Regions from separate parts of the Homo sapiens genome. Here region 1 is linked to region 2. A link means that fine-mapping ties the variant in region 2 to the expression of a gene that starts in the linked region. Tissue or cell type: unexposed skin. Region 2 holds a variant in brackets; the other region holds the start of a gene. All regions are shown on one strand. Distances are between the middles of the regions.

Evidence for each region. PIP is the estimated chance that this variant, and not a neighbour inherited with it, causes the effect. A credible set is the group of variants that fine-mapping cannot tell apart.
Region 1: it holds the start of SAXO5, and the variant in region 2 is the best candidate, but not a certain one, in a credible set for the expression of SAXO5 in unexposed skin (GTEx, PIP 0.85).

What each region holds. Positions count from the first base shown.
Region 1 is chr19:7,495,306-7,499,305 of GRCh38, reverse strand. SAXO5 (stabilizer of axonemal microtubules 5) reads right to left here and starts at 1,758. Exons shown (of 9, transcript NM_198534.3): 1 at 1,624-1,758.
Region 2 is chr19:7,527,036-7,531,265 of GRCh38, reverse strand. It overlaps MCOLN1 (mucolipin TRP cation channel 1), which reads right to left. Exons shown (of 14, transcript NM_020533.3): 5 at 3,638-3,746; 6 at 3,306-3,402; 7 at 3,009-3,108; 8 at 2,563-2,669; 9 at 2,296-2,445; 10 at 2,064-2,165; 11 at 1,554-1,676; 12 at 765-980. Among named protein-coding and RNA genes, the nearest start is that of MCOLN1, 6.5 kb to the right of the region's middle. The variant T/G (reference allele first, on the strand shown) is at 2,581.

The sequences.
Region 1 (4,000 bases), 32 kb after region 2:
GAGTCTCACTCTGTCCCCCAGGCTGGAGTACAGTGGCACGATCTCAGCTCACTGCAACCTCCACCTCCTGGATTCAACTGACTCTCCTGCCTCAGCCTCCCAAGTAGCTGGGATAACAGGTACCTGCCACCATGCCCGTCTAAGTTTTGTATTTTTGGTAGAGACGGGGTTTCACCACATTGGTCAGGCTGGTCTCGAACTCCTGACCTCAAGTGATCTGTCTGCCTTGGCCTCCCAAAGTGCTGGGATGACAGGTGTGAGCCACTGTGCCCGGCCTGCCACGCACTTTCTTACTGGTTTTCCCCTGCTCTGCAGTTGTCCTAGGTCCTGCCTATTCTCAATCTCTTCCTGTCTTCACACCTTCTGAGAGTTAGCTCTCTCCTCTGACCTTCAGCTTCAGACTCCAAGCCTCCCCTGACCCTCCGCCTCTGCTCAGTCACCTGGGACTTTCTTGCCTTTGCTTAGATCACAAGTGTCTCCCATGCTCTCCTCTCTGTCTCCCTTGGAGACCAGCATTCCAAGTTCTCAGGCTCACCTCTTGCAGGAAGACCTCCCAGATCACTTCAACCCACAAAACCTGCTTACCTCTACCTATTTAGAAAACATGGATCAGACGGGTGCAGTGGCTCAGGCCTATAATCCCAGCACTTTGGGAGGCCGAGGTGGGCAGATCTCCTGAGGTCGGAGTTCAAGACCAGCCTGACCAACATGGAGAAACCCCATCTCTACTAAAAATACAAAATTAGTCAGGCGTGGTGGCGCATGCCTGTAATCCCAGCTACTCCAGAGGCTGAGGCAGGAGAATAGCTTGAACCCAGGAGGCAGAAGTCGTGGTGAGCCAAGATTGCGCCATTGCACTCCAGCCTGGGCAACAAGAGCGAAACTCTGTCTCAAAAAAAAAAAAAAAAAAAAGAAAAAAATACAAAAATTAGCTGGGCATGGTAGTATGCACCTGTCATCCCAGCTACTCAGAAGGCTGAGGCGGGAGAACCGCTTGAACCTGGGTGGCAGAGGTTGCAGTGATCCGAGACCACGCTACCGCACTCCAGCCTGGGTGACAGAGCGAAACCCCATCACAAAAATAGAAAGAAAACATGGATGAAGGGTGTGTGTGTGTGTGTGTGTGTGTGTGTGTATGTGTGTGTGTGTGTTTTAATGAAACCACAGTTTTTCAGTGTGTAAGTTTGTTGCTTTTTTTTTTTTCTCAGCTCACTGCAACCTCTTCCTCCTGGATTCAAGCGATTCTCCCACCTCAGCCTCCAGAGTAGCTGGGACTGTAGGTGTCCGCCACCACGCCCGGCCAATTTTTGTATTTTTAGTAGAGACGGGGTTTCGCCATGTTGGCCAGCCTGGTCTCGAACTCCTAGCCTCAGGTGATCCACCCTCCTCGGCCTCCCAAAATGCTGGGATTACAGGCATGAGCCACCGCGCCTGGCTGAGTTTGCTGCTTTTTGAATCATTTGCCCCCTGCAATAGTTGAGAGTTGAATATGACCTCCAAAATGGGTCATCAGAGAATCCAACAACTGAGACTACTAGCCAGGTAATCTTGGAATAAGTCATTAAGCTCCCATGAGCCTCAGTTTTCACCTCTGTACATCAGGGACGAGGACAGTGCACCTACCTCAAGGGATGGCGTGTGAATCAATGAGTTTTAGAAAATTCACTTAGCTACAGACCAGATCTTTGGGTCTCCCTCTGTCCCTGGTCTCTCAGAGGATCCTCATGTTCCTTCCCAGGCTGCATCCAAGGGTGGTCCAGCCCTGCGCATTGTGACCCCAAGAGCTTCCTTTGTGTAATGATACTGTCACAATGACCACTCAGCACCTCTAGGGGCAGCCGGGAGGAAAATTAGCAGGCAGGCTTGGTGCGAATACTGCCTCCTTAGAGCTCCAGGAACCCAGGCAAGTAATTGACTTTTTGGAGCCTCTGGGGTTTTGTTCGGTTGGTTTTGTTTTTGAGGTAAGCTCTCGCTATGTTGCCCAGGCTGGACTTGAAGTCCTGGGCTCAAGCGATCCTCTCGCCTCAGCCTCCCAAGTGGGTGGGTCCACAGGTGTGTGCCACCATGCCTGGCTAGGACTTAGGTTTTGTCATCTGCAAAAGGGGACTAATGATGGTAGCCAGTTCAGAAAGCAGTGTCAGTATTGAGGATTTGATTAAATAGGCTGCTGGTGTCCATTATTATTATCATCCTCTAAAGTTTTTCTGTCCCTCTACCTTCTACACACCCCACACAGAATGGACCCACTTCCCTGAATCACTGCACCTCTTGATATTATTCTAGGGCTCACAGATCTCCCTTTAAAGGGGCCGGTCACCCCTCCTTCCCCAGTCAAAGACCACCAGGAATGTACCTGTGATTGAACACATTCAAGCTTATTATTCATCAGAGAGAGAGAGAGAAAGAAAGAGAGAGGGAGAGAGAGCTCATACATGTCATAGGGCACTATGGCGGTCTCAGTAGGGAGGTGTTAGAAAGAACTTTTTTTCGCTATTTATTTATTTATTTATTTATTTGAGATGGAGTTTCGCTCTTGTTGCCCAGGCTGGGGTGCAGTGGCACGATCTCAGCTCATCGCAACCTCCGGCTTCAAGTGATTCTCCTGCCTCAGGCTCCCGAGTAGCTGGGATTATAGGCATGTGCCACCACACCCAGCTAATTTTGTATTTTTAGTAGAGATGGGGTTTTTCCATGTTGGTCAGGCTGGTTTCGAATTGCCGACCTCGGGTGATCCGCTCGCTTCAGTCTCCCGAAGTGCTGGGATTATAGGCGTGAGCCACCACGCCCGGCCAGAAAGCACTTATTATGGGATTTGCAATTCTGCTCGGTGTTTTGGGGGCACAGCTTAAGGAAGTAGGGGATTTGGGTGGGATGAATTTATTGGTTGGAAATTTTACTTTCTTTTTTGAGATGAGCAGATAAAAACAAATAAAAACAACACACAGGTGAGGCATGGTGGCTCACATTTGTAATCTCAGCCTCCCAAAGTAGCGTCCAGAAAAGGGCTGTTGTGGCTTGGTGTGGTGGCTCACGCCTGTAATCCCAGCACTTTGGGAGGCCAAGGTGGGTGGATCACTTGAGGTCAGGAGTTTGAGACCAGCCTGGCGAACACGGTGAAACCCTGTCTCTACTGAAAATACAAAAATTAGCCGGGCGTGGTGGCTCACGCCTGTAATCCCCGCTACTCAGGAGGCTGAGGCAGGCGGATCTCCTTTGGTCAGGAGTTCGAGGCCAGCCTGGCCAACATGGTGAAACCCTGTCTCTACTAAAAATATAAAAAATAGCCGGGTGTGGTGGCGGGCACCTGTATTCCCAGCTACTCAGGAGCCTGAGGCAGGAGAATTGCGTGAACCCAGGAGGCGGAGGTTGCAGTGAGCTGAGATCACGCCATTGCACTCCAGCCTGGGAGACAAGAGCAAAACTCTGTCTCAAAGAAAAAAAAAACTAGCTGGGCATGGTGGCGGGCACCTGTAATCCCAGCTACTCAGGAGGCTGAGGCAGGAGAATCGCTTGAACCCAGGTGGTGGAGGTTGCAGTGAACTGAGATCGTGCCACTGCACTCCAGCTTGGGCCACAGAGCAAAACTCTGTCTCAAAAAAAAAAAAAGAAGCAAGGGCGGCTGAGTGCAGTGCCTCAGGCCTGTAATCCCATCACTTTGAGAGGCTGAAGCGGGAGGACTGCTTGAGCCCAGGTGTTTGAGACCAGCCTGGGCAACACAGTGAGACCCTATCTCTATAAAAAATTAAAAAGCCAGGTGCGGTGGCGCGTGCCTATAGTCCCAGCTACTTGGGAGGCTAAGGTGGGAAGATTTCTTGAACCCAGGACATTGAGGTTGCAGTGAGGGTGCAGTGAGCTATGATTCCGCCACTGCACTCCAGCCTGGGTGACAGAGTGAGACTCTGTCTCAGAAACAACACAAAACAAAAGAGCAGCTAGGGAGAGAAGTAACTATTATTCAGCATCTTAATCATCTGTATGAAGAAGTCAGAAGGAAGGAAGG
Region 2 (4,230 bases):
TCATGCCATTGCACTCCAGCCTGGGCCACAGGGTAAGATTCCATTTCAAAAAAAAAATAATAATAATAGGCTGGGTGTGGTGGCTTACGCCTGTAATCCCAGCACTTTGGGAGGCCAAAGTGGGAGGATCACTTGACCTCAGGAGTTTGAAACCAGCCTGGGTAACACAGTGAGACCCTTGTCTCTAATAAAATAAAGAACAATACTTTAATAATAAAATAAAATAGGCCGGGCGTGGTGGCTCACGCCTGTAATCCCAACACTTTGGGAGGCCAAGGCAGTAGATCTCCTGAGGCCAGGAGTTTGAGACCAGCCTGACCAATGCGGTGAAATGCCATCTCTACTAAAAATACAAAAATTAGCTGGACGTGGTGGCGTGTGCCTGTAGTCCCAGCTACTCAGGAGGCTGAGACAGAATTGCTTGAACCCGGGAGGTGGAGGTTGCAGTGAGTCAAGATCGCACCACTGCACTCCACCCTGGGTGACAGAGCAAGACTCCGTCTCAAATAAACAAATAAATAAATAAACTCTATGACTCGGTTGCCCTGTTGGCAAAGACTGACTCAGGCCCCCTCCTGGCCCAAGCCCACCTTGACATCCCCCTGCGCCCCCCAGTTCTGAACCACCCTCTTTTTGGTTTCATAGAGTCTCCCATATTCTCTCCTGGGTCTTCTCTGTTCACCCTGCGGTGTCCCCAAGACCCCCTCATGGCAGACTCCAGGGCACCCAGAGCCCGAGCTCAGGGCTGGGTGCATGCGGCTGACCTTGATGGTGTCGTAGGCGCCGGTGATGAGCGCGATGAAGAGGCTGAGCACCATGTAGATGAAGAGGCTGATGAAGGAGTAAAGGTAGAGCTGGGAGAAGAGCCACACCAGGCTGCTGCGGCCCTGCTGCGCCTGCATGGCGGCGAACGTCACAAACATGTCGTCCCCATTGATGAGCGAGAACAGGCACTCAGACACCATGGAGAGTGAGCGGAACTGCCAGAGGGGCGGCGGGGTCAGAGGGAGCCAAGGCATGGCCAGGAACCGGGGGCTGGGGTCAGGCTGGGGTCCCATGCAAATGGCTAGGAGCTGGTGGCTGGGGCCCCACATGAATGGCCGGGTCCCGGGCTGCGGTCACCATGTGAATGGTCGGGTTCCAGGCTAGGGCCCCTGTGAATGGCCGGGTCCCAGGCTGGGGTCCCACGTGAATGGCCGGGACCCAGGCTGGGGTCCCACGTGAATGGCCGGGTCCCAGGCTGGGGTCACTATGTGAATGGCCAGGTCCCAGGCTGGGGTCCCATGTGAATGGCCGGGACCACGGGTCAATGACAGGGCCACAGGGCCGACCTAGGGTCTGGGTAGATAGAGCAGGAGGGGAGTAATTCAGGTCGAAATAGGGTCATCAACAACTGTGACAACAATAATGGCACAGGGTCAGTGTCAGGGTCACCAAGGACCACAGGGGACAGTGGACAGACTCCCAGCAGTCACCAAGGGGTCATCTGGGGGTCACAGTGTCAATGACAAGGTCACAGGGTCAATGTCAGGGACATCAGGGGTTAGATGTACCTTCACATGATAGGGCCCCAGCACGATCCAGCCACAGAAGCAGTAGCCCAGGTAGATGACAGCCACGCAGCAGCAGAAGCGCATGACGCTGGGCAGGGCCACCCGCAGTGTGGCGATGAGGATCTGGGTTGGGGCAGAGGGAGCCTCGTTGAGGGTGTGGCCACAACTCAGGTCAGCTGTGGGCACCCAGATGGGGGTGGGAGGGGCGGGGCCTTGCCGAGGGCACAGCCGGTGTGGTCATGGGAGCCAGTGGGTGCCTAGAGGGGGCGTGGCCACGTCTGAGGGGGTCCGAGGGCAACGCACGGCTAGACTCAGCTGGGTGGGCACAAAGGAGCAGGCTCCCGGGGCCCCGCGCAGGTGCAGTGACAGATATATCTGGTGTGGGCAGGTAGGAGGAGGAGGCTTGCAAGGGGCCATTGGCCGGGGCTGGTGAGGGCTGCGTGTGTAGGGATTTATTTGGAGGGTGTGGAGTAACCATGTGGAAGGCCCAGCTGCATGTGCAAAACTCACATTGTAGTTGTGGAAGAAGGTCAGGTAGCGGATCACGCCCACCCACACCAGCAGCGTCGAGGTGCCCAGGAGGATGCTGCAGACGTCGTAGCTCGCCAAGTTCTGCGGGTGGGAGCTGCGTCAACCTATCTGGCCCAGCCCTTCCTTTGGGGGGCCTGGGGGAGGATATGGCCCCGGATAGGCACTGACAGCAGGGATGGGACCTGGGGCCCAGGGTGTTGGCAGGACGCACCTTGGCCTCGATGCCGATCTTCATGATGGTGCCCGAGATGGTGAGCACATCGCTGGTGACGAGCAGGATGTACCAGCCATTGACAAATTCCAGCCGCTCCCACAGGCTGATGACCCGTCCCCGCTGCCGCCACATGAACCCCACAAACTCCTGCAGAAGGCAGGCGGGGTGAGGGCCTGACCAGGCACAGGACCCTCAAAGCCCTGGCTTTTATCGCCCCAGGGCCAGGCGGGGAGGACACCAGCACACATGACGCAGAAGCCTCACGTTCTGCAGCAGGAAGCC[T/G]CGAAGGAGTGAGCGGGCGCAGAGGAGGAAGGACAGGGAGCAGGTGAGGATGACCACCACGTCAAACAGGAGCCGGAAGCTGTTGTCTCCTGCGGGGAGGGCAGAGCGGGTAGGGCCAAGGATGGCATGGAGCCTTGGGAGGCTAGCATTGGTGCCAGGCCAGGCTGGAGACCTAGGGGGCTGCACGGCTGGTTTTGGTTGGTCAGTGGGCTCAGGGCTTGCTTGGGGTGAGTCAAGAACCCCGGTCAGTGCTGGTCTGGGGCTTGGGGGATCTCAGCACAGGACGGGGTCCCTGGTCTGTGCTGATCTGAGGCTCAGCGGATTCCTGGGGAGGTCACGGCCCCCAGGCAGCGCTGATCTGGGGCTTGGGGAATCCCAGGACAGGCCAGGGCCCCTGGTCAGTGCTGGTCTGGGGCTCAGGGGCTCACCGTGCTGGAAGACACTGGGGTGCTTACACTCCTGGATGTGGGCCTGGGTCTCCAGGCTGATGGGGATCCGCCCACTGTGTGCTTTGTTGTCAAACGTGATCTGTGGGGGCCAGTTGGGGGCAGAGTAAACCTTGGCAGCCCCAAGCCCCAAGGTCCACATGACAGGTGGCCTGACAGACCCCGGGCTCCCTCCCTCATCACCCGCACGCTTGCCCTTGGCCAGTGCTCCCAAGACACTCCCTGACCAGGTCCCTGCCCTGGAACTCAGGAGCCCTGTGGGTTCCCGGGGGGCCTCACCAGGACGCTGAAGGTATAGCAGTCCGGGATCTCATTATTGATGAGGCTCTGGAGGTTAATGGTCTTCAGCCGGAAGTGGATGGTGACATTGACCAGCCTAGGCAGGAGGCTCGGGTGAGGGTCAGGGGCGTCTTCGGGTCCCTTCCGGCCCCAAGTGCCAGCGTCCCCTGCCACGTGCTGACTCTGCAGCTGGCAGGGGAAGTGCTCACCCAGCAGGCACCAGCGCGGGCGGGGGGGCCCTGTCCCCACCTTAGGGAAGTAGTTGCTGGGGTGAGAGTGCCTAGTGTGCTGCCTCCCCCACCCTGGGCCCCCCTCGAGTGAGCAGGCAGTACTTGTGGAATTTGAGCGTGAGGTTCTTGTAACTGGAGCTGCTTTCCAAGAGGGTGAGATCGTCGCTGGGGGGCGGAGGGGGCCGCTCGGGGGGATCCACCTGGATGCAGTCTAAGGACAGGGAGTCAGGGAAGGGCCTCAGGGGGCCGGGGAGGCCAGGCTGGTCTCCCCAGAGTCCCCAGTGGCCTTCTTCCCTGTGCTTCCCCAGGGTTGGGTCATTCCTACAGGCCTGGCACTCTCTGGGCCTGCGGATGTTTTACTGAATGAGCCATATTAAAATATAACATCTGGTGCTTTCTACGTGGCAAGAGTCACACTCACACTAAGCATACTTGTTTTTTTTTTTTTTTTTTTTTTTTGAGACAGGGTCTCACTCTGTCACCCAGGGTGGAGTGCAGCAGCGTGGTCATAGCTTACTGCAGCCTCAACCTCCCGGACTCAAGCGATCCTCCTGCCTCAGCCTCCTGAGTAGCTGGGACCACAGGGGCACGCCACCACGCCCAGCTAATTTGTTTGTGCGTAGAGACAAGGTCTTCCTACGTGGCCCAGGCTGGTCTCAAACTTCTGGCCTCAAGCAATCCTTCCTCCTCAGCCT